Linked DNA regions of Homo sapiens. The protein of the gene in region 1 interacts with the protein of each later gene in a pairwise test. Each region holds a gene or a part of one and is shown in the gene's direction. Other genes may lie near its edges. The genes, in order: APOD, EVI2B, GORAB, SLC35H1, MGST3, SIGLECL1 and KCNJ6.

The links.
Region 2: the proteins of APOD (region 1) and EVI2B interact in binary tests that used the Homo sapiens proteins (3 or more experiments, as listed by UniProt).
Region 3: the proteins of APOD (region 1) and GORAB interact in binary tests that used the Homo sapiens proteins (3 or more experiments, as listed by UniProt).
Region 4: the proteins of APOD (region 1) and SLC35H1 interact in binary tests that used the Homo sapiens proteins (3 or more experiments, as listed by UniProt).
Region 5: the proteins of APOD (region 1) and MGST3 interact in binary tests that used the Homo sapiens proteins (3 or more experiments, as listed by UniProt).
Region 6: the proteins of APOD (region 1) and SIGLECL1 interact in binary tests that used the Homo sapiens proteins (3 or more experiments, as listed by UniProt).
Region 7: the proteins of APOD (region 1) and KCNJ6 interact in binary tests that used the Homo sapiens proteins (3 or more experiments, as listed by UniProt).

The regions. Positions count from the first base shown.
Region 1 is NC_000003.12:195,568,205-195,571,072, reverse strand, and holds the end of APOD (apolipoprotein D precursor), read left to right. Parts: intron 1-1,937; coding exon 1,938-2,173; 3' UTR 2,174-2,368; downstream 2,369-2,868. UniProt on the Homo sapiens protein: APOD occurs in the macromolecular complex with lecithin-cholesterol acyltransferase. It is probably involved in the transport and binding of bilin. Appears to be able to transport a variety of ligands in a number of different contexts.
Region 2 is NC_000017.11:31,304,055-31,307,554, reverse strand, and holds part of EVI2B (protein EVI2B precursor), read left to right. Parts: intron 1-1,924; 5' UTR 1,925-1,945; coding exon 1,946-3,292; 3' UTR 3,293-3,500. UniProt on the Homo sapiens protein: Required for granulocyte differentiation and functionality of hematopoietic progenitor cells through the control of cell cycle progression and survival of hematopoietic progenitor cells.
Region 3 is NC_000001.11:170,530,795-170,534,965, forward strand, and holds the start of GORAB (RAB6-interacting golgin), read left to right. Parts: upstream 1-1,371; 5' UTR 1,372-1,429; coding exon 1,430-1,490; intron 1,491-1,653; exon of another isoform or gene 1,654-1,815; intron 1,816-2,669; exon of another isoform or gene 2,670-2,857; intron 2,858-4,171.
Region 4 is NC_000020.11:46,357,926-46,361,425, reverse strand, and holds part of SLC35H1 (solute carrier family 35 member C2), read left to right. Parts: intron 1-2,467; exon of another isoform or gene 2,468-2,662; 5' UTR 2,663-2,700; coding exon of another isoform or gene 2,701-2,735; 5' UTR 2,736-2,867; coding exon of another isoform or gene 2,868-2,919; coding exon 2,920-3,039; intron 3,040-3,500.
Region 5 is NC_000001.11:165,637,734-165,641,233, forward strand, and holds part of MGST3 (glutathione S-transferase 3, mitochondrial), read left to right. Parts: intron 1-3,500. UniProt on the Homo sapiens protein: Displays both glutathione S-transferase and glutathione peroxidase activities toward oxyeicosanoids, as part of cellular detoxification as well as synthesis of bioactive metabolites.
Region 6 is NC_000019.10:51,261,080-51,264,579, forward strand, and holds part of SIGLECL1 (SIGLEC family-like protein 1), read left to right. Parts: intron 1-2,803; 5' UTR 2,804-2,993; coding exon 2,994-3,015; exon of another isoform or gene 3,016-3,098; intron 3,099-3,500.
Region 7 is NC_000021.9:37,622,958-37,626,457, reverse strand, and holds part of KCNJ6 (G protein-activated inward rectifier potassium channel 2), read left to right. Parts: intron 1-973; coding exon 974-1,299; 3' UTR 1,300-3,500. UniProt on the Homo sapiens protein: Inward rectifier potassium channels are characterized by a greater tendency to allow potassium to flow into the cell rather than out of it.

The DNA.
Region 1 (2,868 bases):
TCACATCCCAGTGTGGATACTGACACGTGACCCCGCAATTTACTATAACTAGCTAGCGTTTCAACAGGTGAAACACAAGTAGGTGCACACCGGGTGTGGGCTGCAGAAGACACAACCCAGTCTTGTTTCCCAAAGGAAACTGGGGCCCGAAACATTAGCAGATATTAGCAGAACAACCTGCACGGCGCAGAAACTAGGAAGCAAGAGATGACAAGAGTGACGGCAAGTTTGAATCCTGCTTCTGCCACTTTCCAGTCACATTGTTGGGGATCCTGTGAGATACCTAATGACAGGCATTTGCCTCTGGGTTCTGAGCTAACTGAGGAAGGGACACAGGCAATAGAGAAAGCACCAAATATTAGTTTTATTTCCGACGAAGATACACTAGAGAGTTCAACCCAGAACTGTGAGGCTTTCTAACACGAAGAGTGCTTGAAAGCCCCTTTCCCACCTGCAGGGTAGACACTGAAGTCATCAGCTACAAAAGTTACTCCCTGCACTTCCTACTTCTCATCTCTGCCACTCCTCCACCCCACACCAGTCAAGTGCCTAGAGCGGGGAGGAGAGGAAGTTCTAATTTTATAGACCAAGAAAGGAATGCTGGGAGGAGAAAACAGTTCTTCTCACACTATGAATATGGACAACTAACTTCACATGTACAAGCCAGAAATAACTGCCCAGTGTCGTGAAAATAAACCAGATACACACGCTCTGTAAACTGTAAAGGGCTTTATACACAGTTTCTCTTGTTATTTTTATCAAGAAGGGAGCTAAAGTGCAGGTGGGCTGAGTGACGCAGGCCATCACTGAACTCATTAGAAGTAGAGTTGGGACCTAAACCTAGGTCTCCAAACTCTCAACTGAGTATTTTTCCCATAGGGATCAGGGACGGGGATTGGAGTGAAAGCTAACTATTACATGCATAACAAGGATTAGATGTTTGCGTTAGGCCTTGTAGGATTATGGGAGATTATGGAAAAGGATTTCCAAGTGAAGGGAACTGGAACATAGAAGAAGGCCTGAATACAGGCATATCACGAAGTCAGGAGTTCAAGACCAGCCTGGCCGACATGGTGAAACCCTGTCTCTACTAAAGATACAAAAAATTAGCTGGGCATGGTGGCGTGTGCCTGTAATCCCAGCTACTCAGGATGCTGAGGCAGGAGAATCGCTTGAACCCAGGAGGTGGAGGTTGCAGTGAGCTGAGATCGCGCCATTGCACTCCAGCCTGGGCGACAAGAGTGAAACTCCATCTCAAAAAAAAAAAAAAAAAAAAAAAAAAAAAACGAAGAAGAAGAAGGCCTGAATAAAGAGGCCTAGAGCCTGGGAGTGTACATGAAGAGGGGCATGAGGTTAGGAAGGGCCTTGAATGCCACATTAAAAGGCTTGAAGTTTCTTCCATAAACAATAGGAGACTGTCAAAGTTTTCAAATAAGGAGAGACATGTGAAGTTTTCTGTATTGTATCTGGGTAAATTTATTCTTCGGAACTGGACCACGAGAGGAAGGCAGAATGTGCCAGCCTGGGTGAGTGCAGGTGGGCCATGATGCCGCTGCTGGCAGAGGTGGGAGACAGATTTTTGCAAAATCACTCTGGGCTTAAGAGTTCTCAGTCCACCTGGGAATACACAGAGCAGCTGAAATGTGCAGATGGGTGATGACTATAACGCTGTCTCTCTCTCTCTCTCTGTCTCTCTCTCTGGGTGAGTGAGGCAGGCAGGCAGGCAGGGCACCAACAGTGCTAGAAAGGGTAAGTCAGAAACACTCAGTCTAGGCTTTCGTCCAAACTTCTTTCCAGGGTCTTTCTGTTTCTGGATTGATAAACAAAATCAGAGGTGGGGGGCTTGGTGGGTGGTTGTCTGGGCCAGCCTTCTTGTGTTGTCCTGAGATTTCTCTTGCCCTCTCCCTCCAATAATGCTGCCTCTCTCTGGTTCTCAGTTATGCCATCGGCACCGTACTGGATCCTGGCCACCGACTATGAGAACTATGCCCTCGTGTATTCCTGTACCTGCATCATCCAACTTTTTCACGTGGATTTTGCTTGGATCTTGGCAAGAAACCCTAATCTCCCTCCAGAAACAGTGGACTCTCTAAAAAATATCCTGACTTCTAATAACATTGATGTCAAGAAAATGACGGTCACAGACCAGGTGAACTGCCCCAAGCTCTCGTAACCAGGTTCTACAGGGAGGCTGCACCCACTCCATGTTACTTCTGCTTCGCTTTCCCCTACCCCCCCCCCATAAAGACAAACCAATCAACCACGACAAAGGAAGTTGACCTGAACATGTAACCATGCCCTACCCTGTTACCTTGCTAGCTGCAAAATAAACTTGTTGCTGACCTGCTGTGCTCGCAGTAGATTCCAAGTTGGATTAATTATTGTGGGTTTTTCATTATAAGCTTATGCTTAGAAATCCTTAAACAGGCTGGTTGTGGTGCCTCATGCCTGTAATCCCAGCACTTTGGGAGGCTGAGGCAGGAGGATCACCTGAGGCCGGGAGTTCAAGACCAGTCTGGGCAACATAGCAAGACCTCATCTCTACAAAAATGTTTTTAAAATTAGCTGGGTATGGTGGTGCACACCCGTGCTAGCTACTCAGGAGGTGGTGGCAGGAGGATGACTTGAGCCCAAGAATTCGAGGGTACAGTGAGCTATGATGGCACCACTGCACTCCAGCCTGGGCAACAGAGCAAGACCCTGCCTCTAAAAAGAAAAACAGAAAAAAAAATCCTTAAGCAGTTATGTTGAAAAAAACCAAGCACTGAATTGTCCTCATTTAAAGGTAACAATCCTGTTTCTGGAGTGGGGGAAGCTGATGGCAAAGGCGTATTCTGGGTGACCTGAATCCAGATGCCCCCGTTCTGG
Region 2 (3,500 bases), on another chromosome or scaffold:
CCAAGTTTTAGCATCTACCACATCCCAGAAAAAGCCCTATCTGCCAAACTTTCATATGTGCCTTATTTTCCTGTGCCCACATTGTTGCTCTCCCTGGCTGGAAACTTAATTAGTTTTTATAGACTTTTAAAATTCAGTTCAAGCTTTACTTCACTGAAGCCTTTCCAGGCTAGGTTAACTTCTCTGTACATCTCCTGCATACTTTTATGAGAAAGCTTATCAAATTATTGTAATTGGGCCAGGCGTGGTGGCTCACACCTGTAATCCCAGCACTTTGGGAGGCCAAGGCAGGCAGATCACCTGAGGTCAGTTCTCGAGCAGCCTGGCCAACACGGTGAAACCCCGTCTGTGCTAAAAATACAAAAATAGGCCAGGCGTGGTGATGTGTACCTGTAATCCCAGCTACTTGGAGGCTGAGAGAGGAGAATCAGTTGAACCTGGGAAGCGGAATTTGCAGTGAGCCCAGATTGTGCCACTACACTCCAGCCTGGGTGACAGAGTAAGACTGTCTTGAAAAAAAAAAAATTATTGTAATTATTTTTTAGCTTTTTTTCTTTCTTCTTTTTATTTAGAGATGGGATCTTACTATGTGGTCCATGCTGTTCTTGAACTCCTGGCCTCAAACGATCCTCCCATCTTGGCTTCCCAAAGTGCTGGGATTACAGGAATGAGCCACTACGCCTGGCCTTTACTGTTTGCTTCTATCACTAGAATCTGAAACACTTAAAGGCAGTGACTATCTTTTTTTTTTTTTTTTAATCTCCTAAACCTAGAACAGAGCTCCACACAAATGTGGCATTTACCAATAGATGAATGAAAGCAGCAGCAGGACTACTTGACCAACTGGATTGAATTTACTCCACCAGATTCAGAGATCACTCTAGGATTTTAAGCCTAAGACTCTGAGTTGAATGAAATTCTTTAAAAATATGCAATATTAACATAAGGCTACCACGCTACAGAGACACTAAGGATGCTTCAAAGATTACTAATAGACTCTGTGCCTAAGAAACTTAGTGGTACCATTAACAGATACAGAGAAGTTGGGAGAAGAGTCAGTTGTCAGTTGTGAGGGTAAAGATGAACTCCATTTTAAATATGTTGAATTTGCTGATAGTGGGAGATATTTATATCTATATCTATGTCTATCTATCTATATATATAAAATATGGAAAAATCCACCAAGAAGTCACACAAATAGAATTAGGACAAAGAAGATGTAGGCTGGAGGTACAGGTTTAGGAATTGTGGCATAAAGCTGAGAACTAAAATCTTACAGAATCAGGAACAAAGAAAAGTAGGTAAGGGTGAGGACAGAATATCAATTAACCATATTTAGGAGGCAGAAGAAAAAGAGCTAGTGAGAGTAACATGAAAGGAAGACTGATTACAAAAAGCTACTTGAATATTAGTGAAGGAACAGTAGTGTCTAATGTGGTCAAGGAGGGGAGGGGAGAGAAGAAATAAAGAACAATTAGATTAGGTAACAGATGATCACTGGTGTTCTTCAAGGCAGGAGAATCAATATATTTCTAGTAGAAAATGGTGAAAAAAGGTAGAGAACACATGGATCCAGCATATAGAGCCTATGCGTTTTGAGAAGTATGACTAAGTGAAGTACTGAAATATAATGAAGCTAGAGGGGCAGCAGAGCCAAGTACAGAACTTGTATTAATAAAAGAAGAGAGATCACTGCTTATGAGGTCCAAATGCTGTATGATGGGTTAGAGTATATCCAAGAGTTGTTACACCAAACCTACAGTGTATCAAGTCTAAATTAGGAATAATAACTACTAATCAACTACTACTAATTAGGAATAATGTCTACCTACTTTATGCCAGGAATCATAATGAAAAGTCAAATTTTTAACTAGACACCAATGACGCCTAACTGTCTTTCTCTTTCATTATAAACCCGCTATAGATAACGAGGAAATATTCTGAAATGGATCCCAAATATTTCATCTTAATTTTGTTTTGTGGACACCTGAACAATACATTTTTTTCAAAGACAGAGACAATTACAACAGAGAAGCAGTCACAGCCTACCTTATTCACATCATCAATGTCACAGGTATTGGCTAATTCTCAAAACACAACAGGGAATCCTTTGGGTCAACCAACACAATTCAGCGACACTTTTTCTGGACAATCAATATCACCTGCCAAAGTCACTGCTGGACAACCAACACCAGCTGTCTATACCTCTTCTGAAAAACCAGAAGCACATACTTCTGCTGGACAACCACTTGCCTACAACACCAAACAACCAACACCAATAGCCAACACCTCCTCCCAGCAAGCCGTGTTCACCTCTGCCAGACAACTACCATCTGCCCGTACTTCTACCACACAACCACCAAAGTCATTTGTCTATACTTTTACTCAACAATCATCATCTGTCCAGATCCCTTCTAGAAAACAAATAACTGTTCATAATCCATCCACACAACCAACATCAACTGTCAAAAATTCACCTAGGAGTACACCAGGATTTATCTTAGATACTACCAGTAACAAACAAACCCCACAAAAAAACAATTATAATTCAATAGCTGCCATACTAATTGGTGTACTTCTGACTTCTATGTTGGTAGCTATAATCATCATTGTACTTTGGAAATGCTTAAGGAAACCAGTTTTAAATGATCAAAATTGGGCAGGTAGATCTCCATTTGCTGATGGAGAAACCCCTGACATTTGTATGGATAACATCAGAGAAAATGAAATATCCACAAAACGTACATCAATCATTTCACTTACACCCTGGAAACCAAGCAAAAGCACACTTTTAGCAGATGACTTAGAAATTAAGTTGTTTGAATCAAGTGAAAACATTGAAGACTCCAACAACCCCAAAACAGAGAAAATAAAAGATCAAGTAAATGGTACATCAGAAGATAGTGCTGATGGTTCAACAGTTGGAACTGCTGTTTCTTCTTCAGATGATGCAGATCTGCCTCCACCACCTCCCCTTCTGGATTTGGAAGGACAGGAAAGTAACCAATCTGACAAACCCACAATGACAATTGTATCTCCTCTTCCAAATGATTCTACTAGTCTCCCTCCATCTCTGGACTGTCTCAATCAAGACTGTGGAGATCATAAATCTGAGATAATACAATCATTTCCACCGCTTGACTCACTTAACTTGCCCCTGCCACCAGTAGATTTTATGAAAAACCAAGAAGATTCCAACCTTGAGATCCAGTGTCAGGAGTTCTCTATTCCTCCCAACTCTGATCAAGATCTTAATGAATCCCTGCCACCTCCACCTGCAGAACTGTTATAAATATTACAACTTGCTTTTTAGCTGATCTTCCATCCTCAAATGACTCTTTTTTCTTTATATGTTAACATATATAAAATGGCAACTGATAGTCAATTTTGATTTTTATTCAGGAACTATCTGAAATCTGCTCAGAGCCTATGTGCATAGATGAAACTTTTTTTTAAAAAAAGTTATTTAACAGTAATCTATTTACTAATTATAGTACCTA
Region 3 (4,171 bases), on another chromosome or scaffold:
CATTTCAACTTTTCTTGACGTGTTTTATTTTGTACTTTACTCCTTTCTTTCATTTTGTTTAAAAATATCAACACACTAAAGCCAAAGTATTTTAAAATGTAAGCCAAGATGAGGTGTTTTGTTGTTCTTACTGCAAAAATAGTGAAAGAGAACCATGAAAAATAGTATAACTAGGTCTCTCTTGAATCATCCTTATCTATGTGTATTTTGACAACGCTTGCATCTTTTAATCTTTGCAACCATATTTCAAATGAGGAAATGGGATCTCAGGTTAGTGTTCAAGGCAGAACCCGAATTACGGTATTAGGATTCCAGGCAGGATCCTAAGAAATGCTTTCCCATCCCCCAGCACCGACGTTTTACAATGTCTTCTCTGAAAAACAGATTTAAAGGGGAGACTAAGAAATCCCGGCCGGGCGCAGTGGCTCACGCTTGTAATCCCAACACTTTGGAAGCCCGAGGCGGGCGGATACCCTAAGGTCAGGAGTTCGAGACCAGCCTGGCTAACATGGTGAAACCCCGTGTCTACTAAAAATACAGAAAATTAGCCGGGTGTGGTGGCCGGCGCCTGTAATCCCAGCTACTCGGGAGGCTGAGGCGGGAGAATCGCTTGAACCCGGGAGGCGGAGGTTGCAGTGAGCCGAGATCGTGCTATTGCACTCCAGCTTGTGCAACAAGAGCGAAACTATGTCTCAAAAAAAAAAAAAAAAAAAAGTAAGAAAAAAAGAAAAAGAAATCCCTTAAGAGGAAAGTTACATATTATAATTATTCACAAAGGAAACAACCCAAAGCAAAAGAAATCTGAGAGCCGCTCCGGCCTGCGAGAGACCTGGTTATGCCTGTTCCCTTTTCATCAATTATACCCCACCCCTTTTAAATGTTTCTTCATCATCAAAATCCTAAATCTGATCATTTCCTGAGTTAATCTGAAGGAGGCCTCCAGCGCTGTGCACACTCCCAGCAAAACACAAGGATTTTAGGGCACACTAAGAGCCACAGAGAGCACCGCTCCCGCCCCACAGGTACAGGACCCCAAAGGCACTTAGATCTCCCGTTTCCGCCACCGACTTGTTGCTCCTTCCCAAATACCTGTTTATCTCCACCCTTATCCCCATCGCCATTTCCCCCCTTAGCTCCTGAAGCGATTAACCAGCAACAGTGAGAAACAATGAGAGAGAGAGAGAGTAGAGGTAAGCCAGAGGAAACGAATGTCTGCGTGGCAAGGTTTCCTTAGGCAGTTTGTCAGGCACTGCTGAAGGCAGCCTGGAAGGAAGCCGGACCCTGAGGCCGGGGAGAGAGGGCCTTGTGTTTGGAGCCCGATGCACTGATTGGCCGCGGCCGGGGAAAAACCCGGATGAGCTGGGCAGCAGTGTTGGCAGTCGCGGCTGCGAGATTTGGGCACTTTTGGGGGTGCCGGTGGCCCGGGCCGATGGCGCAAGGTTGGGCAGGATTCTCTGAGGAGGAACTGAGGAGACTAAAGCAGACTAAAGGTTACAAGATGGGTTTACAGTGGTTTAATTCTTGGGTCTTAAGGGGAAGAGGCGGGGATGCAGCTTTGGCGGGGAAAGGGGGCGTGGAAGCGGCTACGTTTGTGTTAGCGGAAGGCGCTGTAAGTACGTGGACTGGATTAGGGGGTTTCAGAGGAGGACTTACTGGGAGTCACGACGGGAGGGGCAAGCCAGAGGACTGGGATCTTCTTTTAGAAAAAACGGTCCAGGAATCCACTGTAGGGATTTGACTCTTGTGAAAGGAATGGGACTTGGGAGAGGAAGTGAGCCTACAGCCGGGGTGTCTCCCTTAGGGAAGATTGCTGCAGGAATCAACGGTTGGAAGGTTAGGGTCAGGGTAAGGGAAGGAGGAGGGGCGCACACCGTATTAGAATTGTGATGAATTTATAGAAGCAGATGGTTGGAAAAAAGGAGCACAGGCGTCTGAATAAAGGCAAAAATTCGGTACTTTTCACAATTCATCTGGAGTGTTGCATTCACTTCTGGTTGCCAGATGATTTTTGCAGTACTTCCCAATTTTTGAGAATCAGCAAACCAAAAGGGTCTTTGAGAGGGTAGATGTGAAGACTTTATATGTTTATATACATACAGTCTTACTGACTTTGGAGTAAGCTAACCTTGTGCTTCTCTCTCTGGCTTTATAGAGTAATCATTGAATGGGCTTGTACAATTTTTTTGTTGTTGTGGAAGGAATTAAGTTTGCTGATTGTTGGTGGAAAACTTAGTAATATTAATTGCACTTTGCTTGTGGTTGAAATTTCGCAGTGATCTGTATGGTTATCGTGGTAGTACACACAATTTCTGTAAGAAGTGTACATCACTCTTGGTACCTTAATTCAAATACTTTATTTTGGTAGCAAATGAAGTAAACCTTTTGTTAGCGTTTGTGGGGAAATTGGATGTTGCTCTGGTAGCTTGTGCATTTTTAGCATAAATATGAGAATAATCTAGGGCAGACAAGTGGGAAAAGAAGTAAATTAGTAAGATAGGGCCAATGTAGATTATATCGACTGGGGACATTTTGACTGGTCCAGGGGACTTTAAAAACTCTATCATAAAGGTTAGGCTAAGCTATGTAGTTAACTGACTCTGTGTTGCTTGATATACTCAAATTCTTTTGCTTTGTGTTTTCAACATCCATTCACATACTTTGATATACAGGGTACAAGTGCCCTGGCCTCTGGTCTGACTCCAGTAGACTCATGAGGAGACAAACCACAAAGTTATGTGATAGTAGATATTGCAAGAACTTGCTTCAGAGACAAGAGGAACCTCACTCTGCCGGGGATTGGATGGAGCTTGGGAAGATTTCACAAAGTTTGTGTGTTAGCAGAGGCGCATTTTCCAGGGTAAAGATGACTTAATATAAAAATCTAAATTAAACAACATATTCATTATGTAGAAGTATATTTTGAAATATCTTTGCAACCGGGGGTAGATAGAGGATGGTGAGGACCTGAACTTCAAGGCCCACTGTAGTGTGGAAACCAAATCGCTAGTCCGTGACCACCTCGAGGACGGAAAATATCTTAACCTCCTTGTATACCCGTAGCTAAACACAGTGATTGGCATATAGAACTTCCAGCTCTTCCTCTAAATCTTTTCTCCTTGGATTCCTTATTTGTAAAATTAGAGGATTTGGCCCTTTAATTTTAAAGCCATTTCTAGCTGTTCTCTATCTTTAAAAATTTATTGAATAATTTAGGAAGATGGAGTTGGTTGCCAGGAAAAATAAGGACAGTAGTACTCTGGAGACCCCTGTATGGGCATTGAGGAACATAGTCAAGAAAGTTGTTAATAGTCTTGTTTATAATATTAAGAAGTTGGAAACAACCAAAGTGTCCATTAACAAGGGAATGGATAAATAAATTGTGGTATACTCATCTAGCGGGCTACTGTACAGCTGGTGGGAATATATTAGTATTAACTGTAGCCACATGCATTAAAATGTTTGTTAATACAGTATATGTAGTTACACTTGGCCCTTGAACAACACAAGTTTGAACTGTGATGGTTCACTTATACACAAATGTGCATTTAAAAAATACAGTATTTGGGGGATGCAAAACCTGAGTATATGGAGGGCCAACTTTTGGTGTATGTGGTCTTCACAGCGCCAACTGTGGGACTTGAGTATGCACAGATTTTGGTATACATGGGGATCCTGGAACCAATTATCCTCATATACCAAGGATCAGCTAGCTGTATATATAATATATACAGTCACGCACTCAATAACAGTATTTCAGTTAGCAGCGGACCACATATATGGTGATGGTCTGGTAATATTATAATACCCTGTTTTTACTATGCTTTTTCTATGTTTAGATACACAAATACCGTTGTTACAGTTGCCTACAGTCTTCAGTATAGTGACATACTGTACAGGTTTGGAGCTTAGGAGCAAAAGGCTGTACCATATAGCCTAAGTATATAGTAGGCTGTACCATCTAGGTTTGTGTAAATACACTCTCTGATGTTTGCGCAAGGACAAAATTGCCTTACAACACATTTCTTAGAATGTATCCCTTTGTTAAGTGACGTATGATTGTATATAGTGGGGAGGCGTGGGAATGTGATCAGGGAGAGGGAATTTCAGAGGTATTGGTATTTATGAAATCAGGTTAAGACAAGTTAAGCTAAAGTAACAAATAGCCCTAATA
Region 4 (3,500 bases), on another chromosome or scaffold:
GAGACTCCTGCAGTCATTTGGGGAGAGGATGGTGGCTGAGATGGTAGTGGTGGAGTTCAGGACATGTGCTCATATTTGGGATATTTCTGAAGATAGAGCTGACGGTATTTATTGATTGAATGTGGGCTAAGGGGAAGAGAGGAATCAGATGAGCCTAAGGCTTTTGGCCTGAGCAACTAGGAGAGTAGTGGAGCCATTTGCTGGGATGGGAAGTAGGAAGAGGAGCAGGCTTGGATGAAATGGGGGTGTGGAAAACACGAGTCAGTTTCAGACACTCTAGATGTGAGTGAGATGCCTGATATTAGATATCTAAGGGAAGAAGAGGTTAGGTAGGCATTGGATATTCTTCTGGAGTTCACATGAATCAGAGCCGGGGCATATATTGGGAAGACATCAGCTTACAGAAGGCATTTGAAGGAATGAGAATGCATTAGGTCAGGTAGGAGTCTCAACTCATTGGATCTGACACCTCTTTTTTATTACAAATATTTTGTAACAGTCCCTTTTATTACCCTAAAATGAAACATATGATTAATAAAAACTGCCTACACATAATTTTTTAAAAATCAACAAATGCAGCCGGGCGCGGTGGCTCACGCCTGTAATCCCAGCACTTTGGGAGGCAAGGCGGGCGGATCACCTGAGGTTGGGAGTTCAAGACCAGCCTGACCAACATGGAGAAACCCCATCTCTACTAAAAATATAAAAAATTAGCCGGGTGTGGTGGTGCATGCCTGTAATCAGTCCCAGCTACTAGGGAGCCTGAGGCAGGAGAATCGCTTGAACCTGGGAGGCGGAGCTTGTGGTGAGCCGAGATTATACCATTGCACTCCAGCCTGGGCAACAGGAGCGAAACTTCGTCTCAAAAAAAAAATAAAATAAAATATAAATAACCATGCCCTATAACATAAAAGGAAAGTAATTGATAGTAAAACAAAATATGTTTCAATATGTAAGTTTCTGGGCACAATAGTGCTGGAAGTTGCAGTGAAGCTGTCCCTTCTGTGTGGACCCTCTAGGAGTGTGATGGCCACAGACACAGACTGACACAGCCGTGTTGTGTCGCACCTCGAAAACCACTAGTGCCATTGCTGTAGATGATGTGGTTTTTCCAGAATGGACACTTTTGGTGCCATTTTGAGACCAATTTTGACCATTTTCAGTCTCCCTTCATTGTACATAGGCGTCTTATTCTTGGAAGTGTTAGTTCACAGCAGAACCATGGAAACACTGCACTGTGTTTACATGTAAACAGAGTTACATTCTAGGTTCAGATAATTATAAGCTAATCTTTCACCTATATGGATGTCAAAGTCGTGCGGGATGCAGAGCAGTAATTGGCTATGTGGACTGCCCCTTCTTTATCCCTGCTTACTGAACGCCAGGAGCATATCCCCAAAATACCGCCACAGGTTTCCAAAGCTCCTCTGAAGACAACTGTAGCCCCAGAGATTCATTTGGACACAGCCAGCTCCCTGTTTGCCCCGGGGAGGGGAAATAGTAACAAGAGTTCCAGAGTGCAGAATGGAATGTAACTGCTCCCTTCAGAAATGTTGGGGTGGGAGATGGAGAATGTGTCTGATCGTGAAGCCTAGGAAGGCTTCGAGAAGAAGGTGGCGTTTCAATAGGATGGGAATGTCTCAAAGGAGGATCTGTGGTTGAGGGGGGCACCCAGATGAAGCAGCAGGTATCATCACATAACACTGGACCTGAGGCTCCTCCAGGCACAGACAGGTCTACCCGGCATGCTCCGGGCACTCATCAGGGTTGGCTGGATTGACAGGGAGGCTGGGAGTGGTTTCATTTGGCAATACCGTAAGGCAGGCTCTGCTTCCAGGGAGTAGTGGTTACAGCCTGGTCTTACAGTGTTCCAGCCGTTAGAGTGTTGGTTTCCTTCTCCATTTTTAACCCCTAAAGACCAGACCAGTCCCCTGAAAATCGCATGCCTGCTCTCTGTCAGTCATCAAACCAGACGGAGAACTTAAAGTACACCAGCTGTGCGTAAGGCCAGTGTGGTCTTACTGGTCCCTATCTTTGTGCCGCTCGTAGCCTCTCAGGGGACAGACATTACTCAAATCACACCCTGCACAAGTGCTATGAAAGAGAAGTAGGAGAGCCGTGAAAGCAACATGTATCTCAGGGGACTGATTCAGGGGATGGGGTGGGGTTCCCTGAAGAAGTGACCTCTGAGCTGAAGATAGGTAGGATTGATGAAGGACTGAAGGGTGGGTGCAGTGTTCGTTCATTTCCTTCAGACAACGGGAAGAAAGCTGGTGTGTTTGGGGAGCTGAAAGGCGCCCAGTGGGGCCAGGTCCTGGAGAGCCTGTGGCTGAGACTGGGAAGACCAGCAGGGCCAGATGAGGCCATGGGAGCCGAAAGAAGGGTGCTGGTCTTTATCAGAAAAGCACTGGAAGCTGCTGAAGGGTTTTAAGCAGTGGCCTGACATGATCAGTTTGTGTTTTAAAAGGTCACTTTGGTGGCAGTTCATGGAGAATAGCTTGAGGTGACAAGACAGCAGACACGACGTGGGTCTCTGGGACTGCCTGTGCCGTTGTGGGCAGCCCCTCCAGAGCCCTGAGTCACGCAGCCTTCAGAGGCACCCATGGCTACGAGAAGCACAGTCTCTGCCTGAGGCTCCAGAGCGGCCCTTTTTCCCCAGCAGCAGACCTTGGGACCTGTGAGCGCTGCATCCAATTAACCATGGGAAGGGTCAGCACCAGCCACCAGCCCCTTAGGTGAGGACTCTGCCTGGGGCTCTGCTGATGGTTCCGAATCATGGAGCTGCAGAGAGCTCCTCCAGCCTGGAGACGTTCTTGGTGAAAGCTGTGGTCTAACTCCACCGGCTCTTCCTGCACATTGTATTCAAGAGGGGTGCCTGCCCCCGCTGACTCAGGAGCTCCGGTGCTGCAGCCGCCACGAATGGGGAGGTGGGCCCTCGATGTGGCCTTTTTGTGGAAGGCGGTGTTGACCCTGGGGCTGGTGCTTCTCTACTACTGCTTCTCCATCGGCATCACCTTCTACAACAAGTGGCTGACAAAGGTACCAGGAGGCCTTGCTGGGGCGGGGTGCTGGGATGAAGGTGGCCAGAGCCATGGCTACGGTGCCCTTCATGTTTAACAGGAAGGCACAAGCTTCAACCAGTCTAACTGGAAGCCAGTCACGGCTGGGCTGGAACAGGGCCCTCCAAGCCTGCCGTGCCAGGGTTCCCCTTCAGTGTTTGGATCCAGGGAAACCAAGGAGAGCGGGGGGTGTGAAGGGATGAGCTGGGGAAACTGGGGCTCAAGCAGCAGCTATTTACCCCACTAGAGAAGTATTTCAATATTTTAATAAGTGATACAACGTAGTGGGCCGCAGTGGCTCTCACTTGGGCATAGGCCGTGAGGAAGGCTGGGCAGGTAGCTCACAGGTGTGTTGAAATGGTGGAGACAGCACCAGGCTAGGATTGAGTCTCTTGGCTGCCACCTGTCTTCGTGACCTAAGAGTCTGTCATTCCAAGCGAT
Region 5 (3,500 bases), on another chromosome or scaffold:
TAGCCAGATGTCATAATGAACCCCTGTGTTGCTAACTCAAATGCTGGAATGGAGCATGTGTTTTAGGAGTTAGACCAACACTGCCTCATCTTAAGCCCAAGTCTGATCACTCCTAAACTGAAACTTTGCAAATGTGTGTGTTGTAGCTTACTTAAAACCCATTGGGTGTCTGCTAACTCTGGCTACACTGAAAAGTTTTTGCTATTCTACCACCCACGGACGTCAGAGCCCTGCTGCTTACCAGGGCATGTTAGTCTCCTAATCTACCCCTGAAAACCTACCATGGCCCGGGGCTTTTCTGCTACCCCCCACGTCCTATACCCTGCTTGCTTCAAAATACTGTTCCTAGTTTTCTTCCCCTAACTTGATAATGTACTCCAAAACAATCATGTTTGGCAAGTAATACACTGATAAATGTAAAAGTTACAAATAGAAGTGCTGCTGTGTTTTTAAAACATTATAGGGCCAGGAGCAGTGGTTCATGCCTCTTATCCCAGCACTTTGGGAGGCTGAGAGAGGCAAATTGCTTGAGCTCAGGAGTTCGAGACCAGCCTGGCCAACATAGCGAAACCCCGTCTGTACTAAAAATACAAAAAATTAGCTGGGCATGGTGGCACACACCTGTAATATCAGCTACTTTGAGGCAGAAGGATTGCTTGAGTCCAGAGGTCAAGCCTGCAGTGAGCCCTGATTGTGCCACTTCCACTCCAGCCCGGATGACAGAGGGGGACCCTGTCTCAAAACAAAAACAAAACAAAACAAAAACCCAGCCAGGTACGGTGGCTCACACCTGTAATCCCAGCACTTTCGGAGGCCAAGGAGGGTGGATCACTTGAGGTCAGGAGTTCAAGACCAGCCTGGCCAACATGGCGAAACCCTGTCTCTACTAAAATACAACAATTAGCTGGGCATGGTGGTGCATGTCTGTAATCTCAGCTACTTAGGAGGCTGAGGCAGGAGAATCACTTGAACCCAGGAGGTGGAGGTTGCAGTGAGCCAAGATCGTGCCACTGCACTCTGCCACTCACTCTAGCCTGTGGGACAGAGAGAGACTCCGTCTTAAAAAAAAAAAAAAACCCACATTCTAGAAATAATTAGGTTTCTAAAGTATTCTTAAAAGGGGCATCTGTGGAAACCAGCCACTAATAACATATTTAAAGGAGAGAGACTGAATGCTTCCCCCTAAGATGAGGAAAGAGGCAAGGATGTCGGCACTTGCCACTGGTATTCAACATTGCATTGCCCCTAACCAGGACAATCAGTCAAGAAAAAAAAATAAATAAAAGACATCCACATTGGAAAGGAAGAAGTAAAACTGTCTCTCTTTGCAGATGGTATGATCCTCTATGTAAAGTATTCCAACGATCGTGGATCTGTCTCTCCCTCCCCTATGCTCTTGGGCCCTGGCTCTGTTTCTCTCCTGGAGTAGAAGCCTGTGGTGCAGCAGGATTCAATTGCCTTCAATTGAACGTTGCAGAGGACTTTCCCCTCGGTGCTTCCCGTACTGGGGGAAGAGGTGATTTAACTTCTGAGTAAGGGACAAACCCAGTAGTGTGTTAGTAGCAAAAAGCATGGACACTGGCATCAGTCTGCCTGTATTCAGACACCAGCTGTGCACTCATCAGCTGTGGGACCTTAGGCAAATTGTTGAATTTCTCTTTGCCTCCATTTCCTCATCCATAGAATGGGGATAATAATAGTAACTATCATATGGGATTGTTGTAAGGATGGAAAGTGTTAAAATATCTAAACTCTGTTACAGTGCCTGCCATAAAAGAAGCACTCTAGGCCTGGCGCGGTGGCCCATGCTTGTAATCCCAGCACTTTGGGAGGCTGAGGCAGGTGGACTGCTTGAGGTCAGGAGTTCGAGACCAGCCTGGCCAACATGGCGAAACCCCATCTCTACTAAAAATACAAAAATTAGCTGGGTGTAGTGACATGTGCCTGTGATCCCAGCTACTCTGGAGGTTGAGGCATGAGAATTGCTTGAACCCGGGAGGCAGAGGCTGCAGTGAGCTGAGATAGCACCCCTACACTCCAGCCTTGGTGACAGAGCAAGACCCTGTCTCAAAACAAAACAAAACAAAAGAAGCACTCTATGGGACCAGGTCTTATAGTTAGGTATTATATATGTAGTAGTGATATTTTCAGTTTTGCTGTTTCTGCCAGATGGGATGAAAAATTCCATGAGAAGTTGGCTGGAAGTCCTACTGATTCATTAAATAGGCCTTTCATTTGAAGTCATGTTTCTAATCATTCAGAAGTTGAGGTATGCCTGATCCATGGTATTAGAAGGGATGATCCCAGAGAGGTCATTCTGTAGCATAATGAGCATTACTTTTGAAGGATGGAGAACCTAGAACTCTGACTCATTTGACTATGGGAAAATCTGATCTGGTGAGTGACCATGACCATGAAGTGAGATCTGGTAACCCAATGGTGGTCACAGGATAGAGACTCTGAAGATACTGAGCTGGCTTACACACTTGCTTTGTTGTCTCGAACCTCTGTTAAAGCTGAAAGAAGAAGTCAGTCTTCTGCTGGGCACACTGTTAGTGTGTAATTGTGAAGAGCTTAGCTGGAGCTTGCTCTTCACAACAGTCTCTGATCTCATCAGCCCCATTCTGTTTTCAGGGGTGGTACAGAAGGAGCACCTCAGGAGCCTCCAAAGATAGTAGTAGAATATAACCACCAAGACAAGACTGTGACTGTGGTTTTGAATCAGATAGAATCACCACCTCCTGCAAATTTTGTTTTTGCTCAGAACAGTGGTTCTTAAAATGTGGTCCTTGACCAACATCATCAGCATTACCTAGGAACTAGTTAGATATGATAATACTCAGGCCCCACCTAACATGACTGAACCAGAAACTCTGGGACTGAGGTATGTTTTAACAAACTCTCCAGGTGATTTTAATGCCACCAAAGTTTGAGAACCACTGATCTAGGATATAGAACAGCAGCATTCTACTGAGTTTCTGTCTTCATGCAAGTTGCTATAAAAAATATAAGCAAGGAGACACGCTCTCTGTCCTCAAAGAGCACATAGTCCATCTAGAGAGGTATACTATATTCAATGCCACACAAAGGAGGCCTTCCCAGCCGGGATCCTGATGCAACAGCCCTGCCCAGTCTCTATGCCATTGCCGTGTGTTTTCCCCAGAAGAGTTCCCATTCTTGGCCAGGTGCCTGTAATCCTAGCACTCTGGGAGGCTGAGGCAGGTGGATCACCTGAGGTCAGGAGTTCGAGACCAGCCTGGCCTACGTGGTGAAACCCCGTCTCTACTAAAAATACAAAAATGAGCCTGGTGTGATGGTGGGCACCTATAATCCCTGCTACTCGGGAGGCTGAGGAAGGAGAATCACTTGAACCCAGGGGGCGGAGGTTGCAGTGAGCCTAGATCGTGCCACTTCACTCTAGCCTGGGGGGAAGAGCAAAACTTTGTCTCAAAACAAAAAAAGAGTTCCCACTCCCTGAAGCTGTTTTTTGTTTGCATGTT
Region 6 (3,500 bases), on another chromosome or scaffold:
TTTTTGGACTATGTTAGTAGGCAAACACAAATTTTAAATATATACTTTATTCCTGTTAATGTCAGCTTATCATTAGGAGATATGCCATTCTATCTTTGGTAATGCCTTTTGCTTAAAGTCTGCTTTATGGGATGTTAATGTAGGTATGTCTACATTACCTGGCTTTCTGGTTGGTATTTGCTTGGTGTATGTTTTCATTCTTTGGTTTTTTCTTTTTTTCTTTTTTTGAGACGGAGTCTTGCTCTGTCGCCCAGGCTGGAGTGCAGTGGCATGATCTCGGCTCACTGCAAGCTCTGCCTCCCAGGTTCATGCCATTCTCCTGCCTCGGCCTCCTGAGTAGCTGGGATTACAGGGGCCCGCCACCACACCCAGCTAATTTTTTGTATTTTTAGTAGAGACGGGGTTTCACCGTGTTAGCCAGGATGGTCTGGATCTCCTGACCTCGTGATCCGCCCGTCTCGGCCTCCCAAAGTGCTGGGATTACAGGCATGAGCCACCGCTCCCGGCCCATTTGGTTTTTTAACTGTCCTTTACACTTATGCTTTGGTTGTGTCTTTTGTAAACAGCATGGAGTTTGGCTTTGCTTCTTTTTTCCAATATGATGATCTTAGATTCATAACTGGATAATTTAAGCCATTTATATTTAGTTAAATCACTGATGTATTGGAGTTTAAATCTAACATCTAGGTACATGATTTCTACTTGTCCCAACCGTTCTATTCTCTTTTGTATCCCTTCTGTTTGTTTCTCTGTCTTTATTTTCAAACAAGCTTTTAAATCAAAGTACAATTTTATACAGAGAAGTATTAATACAGATAGTAAGTATACAACTCAAATTATCACAAAGGGAGCAGACCAGTGTAACCACCACTGAGGTCAAGAAATAGAACATTAACAACACCCCAAACACTCCACTCATGTACTACACCATTCATTACCCCCTTTATCCTTGCTATGTTCTGGATGCAAGCACGTTGTATGTGTTGCAAGTATGTTCTCCAGCCCTGCAACTTGCATTTGTCCTCCTTAATGGTATCTTTTGATGCAGAAATTAATTCTGATACAGTCCATTTTATCCATATTTCCTCATAGCTAGTGCTTTTTGGCCCTTTTAAAGAAATATTTCCTTACCTAAAACTTACCAAGATACTCTCCTATGTTGTATTAAAGAATTCCACTGACCAATGTGGTAGCTACTAACTACATATGGCTATTGAGCCCTTATATTATGGCTAGTCTGAATTGAAGTGTGCTGTAAGTGTAAAATATATACAAGATTTTGAAGAGTGTATAAAGAATGTACCAAATCTTAACAATTTTGTGTTGATTGCATGTTGAAATATTGGGTTAGGTTCAATATGAATAACCTAGTGAATAACCTAGGTTTCTTTCACTAGGTTAAATGAAACATCATTAAAATTAATTTTACCCATTTCTTCCTTTTTAATGTGGCTGCTAGAAAATTTAAAATTATACATGTAGTCCACATTTATAGGTCACATTATATTTCTTCACACAGCACTGTTCTAGAAAAAAAGTCTAAGGACTTTCCCAATGTCCCTAGAAGTTATTTTTATGTATGACATGAGGTAGGGGTCTTATTTCCTTTTGCTGTATGGCTGTCCAGTTATTCTGACACAATTTATTCAAAAGAGAGTCCTTTAACTTCTATGCAGTGCCATATTTATCCTAAACCAAGTGATCACATATGTATAGGTATTTTTCTAACCATATAGCCTGTCCCATTGGTATTTTTATTTATCCTTGTGTCAATACCATACTCTATGAATTACTATGTATGTATGTATGTATTTTATTTATTTACTTATTTATTTTGAGATAAAGTCTTACTCTGTAGCCCAAAGCTACAGTGCAGTGGCGTGATCACGGCTGACTGCAGCCTTGACCTCCCTACCTCAGGTGATCCTCCCACCTTAACCTTTCAAGTAGCTGGGACTACAGGTGCGTACCACCACACCCAGATAATTTTTGTATTTTTTGTAGAAACGGGGTTTTACCATGTTGCCCACGCTGGAATTACTATGGATTTTTAAGTCATGATATCCAGTAGGAATTGGAATTGATCATTTTTTTGAGACAGGGTCTCGTGCTGTCTCTTTTTTAATAGAAATTTACTGAGAACAAATTTATTAAATAAATGTCTACATGGGATATAAAAGGGAACATTGTGCCATGCTATACAATGTTACTTACACCATTCATTTCAAATTTTATGGCAAAACAATTATACTGTGGTAGGGAGATGTTGTTTTACACTTCTCACCAAACTAAACATTATCATATTTTTCCTGAGAGAATGTCAACACTTTGCTATCTTAAGTGATCACACCACTGCAATCCAGACTGGGTGACAGAGAGAGAGAAAGACCCTGTCTCAAAAACAAAAACAAACCGGGCATAGTGGCTTATGCCTGTAATCTCAGCTGTTTGGGAGGCCAAGGCGGGTCAGGTGTTTGAGACCAGCCTGGCCAACATGGTGAAACCTCATCTCTACTAAAACTACAAAAATTATTTGGCCATGGTGGTGAATACCTGTAATTCCAGCTACTCGGGAGGCTAAGGCAGAAGAGTCGCTTGAACATGGGAGATGGAGATTGCAGTGAGCCGAGATCGAGCCACTGCACTCCAGCCTGGGCGACAGAGTAAGATTCCATCTCAAAAAACAAAAATAAAACAAAGAATAAAGCAGACATGACACTGAGGCTTCACAGACAATCTTAGTTGCCTCCCTGTCCGTACGTGCTCATGAGCCTCTCATCCCATATAATTCCTGCTTCTCCAGGTGAACAGGCCTTCACGATGACCAGAGACAGAAGCCCCTGACTTGGCTAAAGATACTTCTGCTCTCCCCATCCCCACATCCTCTTTCAGTTACGCATCACCTCACTCCTTCTGAACCATATGGTTCTGATGTCAGAGCCAGTGTAGTAAAGAGCTTCTGCTGTTCCTGAGAACTGTTGCTGCTGGAAGTGATGCTTCCACTGCTACAGCTGGGTAAGTAAGGTGAGAAGCAGCACTGGAGGTGTGTTTGGAAGCCAAGACTCCAGGGCCTGGGTGTTGGCAGGGCAGAGGATGGGCTATGGAGGCATGGAGAAAGAGGACATATGGGCATAAGTACCAAATAATCAACATGAATTAGACAGCTTCTGTGTGTCAGATTTTGACAGGGCTGGTGTGTCTGAAGCAAATAGCAAATTGGGCAAGGGAGAGGGATGGAGAGTGTAGGTGCTATGAAGGCATGAGAGCACTAGGAGCTGTTTCAGACATTACTGGAAGCCCTGAAGTTAAGTTTTTCAGTGTTTCTGTGGGCACACTTTGCCAGGTGGAAAAGACAATTCAGAGGACAGCCATAGAGGGGTCCGTACATGAGAGTCCCCCGCAGATTCCTCAACAGCGCCCCGCAAGTGACTCAGGTGAAGAGACCGAGATCAGGAGCTACTGGTTAGGGGAAAATTACCCCTTTCTTCCAGTAACCTCAA
Region 7 (3,500 bases), on another chromosome or scaffold:
TTATCTTTAAGAAAAGGGAAAAGTGGCCAGGAGCAGTGGCTCACGCCTGTAATCCCAACACTTTGGGAGGCTGAGGCAGGCGGATTGCCTGAGCTCAGGAGTTCATAAACAGCCTGGGCAACACGATGAAACTCCGTCTCTACTAAAATACAAAAAAAAATTAGTCGGACATGGCGGTGTGCACCTGTAGTCCCAGCTGCTCAGAAGTCTGAGACAGGAGAATTGCTTGAATCCTGAAGGTGGAGGTCGCAGTGAGCCGAGATCGCACCACTGCACTCCAGCCTGGGCGACACAGCGAGACTCCATCTCAAAGAAAAAAAAAAAAAAGAAGGGGGAAAAGCTTTTAAAGTAGTTATGATTGCACAGTCTGAGCAACTATGACCACTGGGCCTAAGTAAAGTGCAAATTCAGGTGGGTGACCCTTCCAACTGCATCTGGAGCCACAGTCATGGCCTGTGTGTTAATGGCAGGTGGGAGGGTAACACTGATCTGTGGCCTCTAGCTTAAAAGCAGCCTAAGTGTAGTTCCATATATGAAATTTCATTCTAAGTCTGTGGCCAAAGAGCTCAAATCCCATTAGAACCCAGGCTAAACCTCCAAGAGCAGTAGGAGGCCAGAGTCATGGCTTCAGGGTTCTCCCAGAGCAGAGTGGACCAGACATAGCCATGCACATGCGAAAACTTGTGTGCATTTGCACACTTGATTTCCTTTGCATGTGCATGGCCATGCAGGCAAATGTGGCTTGATGTGGGCCAGGACTCTCTCATTGTTCCCCAGGACTCCCTTAAGAGGCCTGGAATCTCCATGGCACATTAGCATGTGTCTACAACATGAATGACACCTACTAAGTGTGGCATCGTATGCAGGTCAGTCTCAACAGCTGCATGCAGTACTCCTCCTGGCTCTCTGTGACTCCTTGGCCATGGAAAGCCCACACTTACATATGCTAAAGCCTCCATTCTTCTCTCTGCAGGGATGACATGCCAAGCTCGAAGCTCCTACATCACCAGTGAGATCCTGTGGGGTTACCGGTTCACACCTGTCCTGACCCTGGAGGACGGGTTCTACGAAGTTGACTACAACAGCTTCCATGAGACCTATGAGACCAGCACCCCATCCCTTAGTGCCAAAGAGCTGGCCGAGTTAGCCAGCAGGGCAGAGCTGCCCCTGAGTTGGTCTGTATCCAGCAAACTCAACCAACATGCAGAACTGGAGACTGAAGAGGAAGAAAAGAACCTCGAAGAGCAAACAGAAAGAAATGGTGATGTGGCAAACCTGGAGAATGAATCCAAAGTTTAGTGCCCTAGCTGGGCAAACCCTTCTCTTCTCCCCCCAACACAATCTTTCCTTGTCTCTCATTCTCTTTCTTTTTCTGTCTCTCTTGCTTTGTTCTTTATTTGTTTATATTTAATTTTTACATGACCAGAAAACAAATCTTCAAGGTGTAAAATATCTACCTGCCCTCTCTCAGTTATTCAGATTGACAAGGTAGACATGGATTTGATGAAAGTGCAAAGTGCCCTCATTTGTGGCCCAAGCCTGGTCTCCTCCCAAAATACTACACATCCAACTCCTGGAGATTTCAGTTACTTACCTGCATGTGTTGTACAATACCAGATCACTCAAAAAGGTGTGTCAAAGATTTTACCTGGGATATGACAAGCAAGGTTTCTGGTGCCTATTTATTCATTCAGTGAGACACAGAGTGGAGCCCTCAGTTTTATGGATCCCAATTCATTTCATCTACTACAGGGTGAGGTGCTTGCCCCCATGTGGGTGTGGCAGTTACAGGGCCCAGGTGAGCTGAAGACAAACCACTGTACATATATATGCCTTATGTAATTATTTTCTTTTTGTAATTAGTAATAAAACCCAGCATGTACAAAAGTACCATAGAACAGAACTGCTAAATACTGTACATAGATGTATCATTAATGTAGGTTTAGATATATAACTTTAGAAATAAGAAGCAAAAAAAAAAAGAAAGAAAGAAAGATTCCTAACATGCAGTAGGCATTTCTGTTTTGATGTCTGTGTTTTCCAGGTTATTTTGATCCAGTTGACGGCTGGCCCTTCAGTGCATGGCCTTTGTTTGTGTCTCAGACTGGCAGACGTTAGGGTACCTCACTGTTCCCACACGGATCCTTTCATTGAATCCAACAAGCCATAGGTCTGGGGGAAATTGAGAGGTCTGGTAGATGGCAAAACCCACCACCAATATGCTGATATACTGTGAAATGTTACAAAACAGATGTCTTTTTTTAAAAGATAACAAGGGCCTCACTAACTGGCCTGGAGGAGGGGGAATACCAGGAAGGAAATATTCTCTAGCCTGTCACCAAAGGTATGTTTTTACTTTTCACATGAGCTCTTGCCCTTTGTAGTACAATAATTTAGGAAACTTTTCTGCAAAACCATTGATTCTCCAGCTGTAGTTTCTCTACACTCTTACAATGAGACATGGTAAGTTAGCAGAAGATGGTTTGGGTCTAAAGCCGTGAAATTCACAAAGGCATGTAGTGAGTGGCATGCATTATAATCATCGACCTCTCACTTTGACTCTATCTGGCTTTCTGAGAATGACATCTCGCCTGTCCCTGGGGCTTATCCATCAGCATTTCTTGCATTGTGATCTTTTATTATTTTGAAATGACCAGAGTTCAGTATTCAAAGATTAGATCAACAATCTTGATGATTGTCTAAGAAATGTCTCTAGAGTATGCCACAGGCTAGAAATCAAATCCAGTGTCTGTCAATCAAAAGAAAACAAATAAAAAAATTCCAGCCTTAATTCACTTTAATCTGCAAAAAGGAAAGAAGGGAGGAAGGGAGGGAGGAAGGAAGGAAGGAAGGAAGGGTATTTGTACTGGAAATCTGAATTTTAAAATGAAAAAAATAAGGAAACAAATCTTAGATCAAACCTCCGGGGCAGGTGGAGATTTTGCACTGTTACAGATCTTTCACATTCACTTTGCATTTATAAGCTGTTTGTTCTTTAACACAGTTGCCCATCATAAATATTCATTGAATGGATCCAAGTTTATTTTCAGCTCCTACAGCTGTGCTCAGTTTGAGGCTCTGCACCATGGAGGTCAAAGAGATCAAACTAGCTGTCCCTCTTTGTTTCCCTTGCCTTCCCTGACCTGATCGCACAGGCCTTTGGTGTAGTCTGGGGACCTTGTCTACTAAAAAAGAAGTCCCAGGATAAGGAAAGTGGCTCCTAAATATAACCTCGGGGCCTCTCTTCTCCCATCTCAGAGACCTTGGATCAGGACAACTGCCTCTTGGCACTGACTTTAAGGAAAACAAAACTGTTGGCTATAGCCCTTTCCTGTTTGCCAGCATTTCCTTTTTTGCATTGAATCTCTGTTGAATCATTTCTTTATTTCGCACACTCTAAGAAGGAGGTGGTGGTCCGGGAGGAGGAAGCTCGATACACTCCCCTTGAGGCTGCGGGGAGGAGCCATGGCTTGACCTCTCTGCAGCCTAATGAAGGGCAC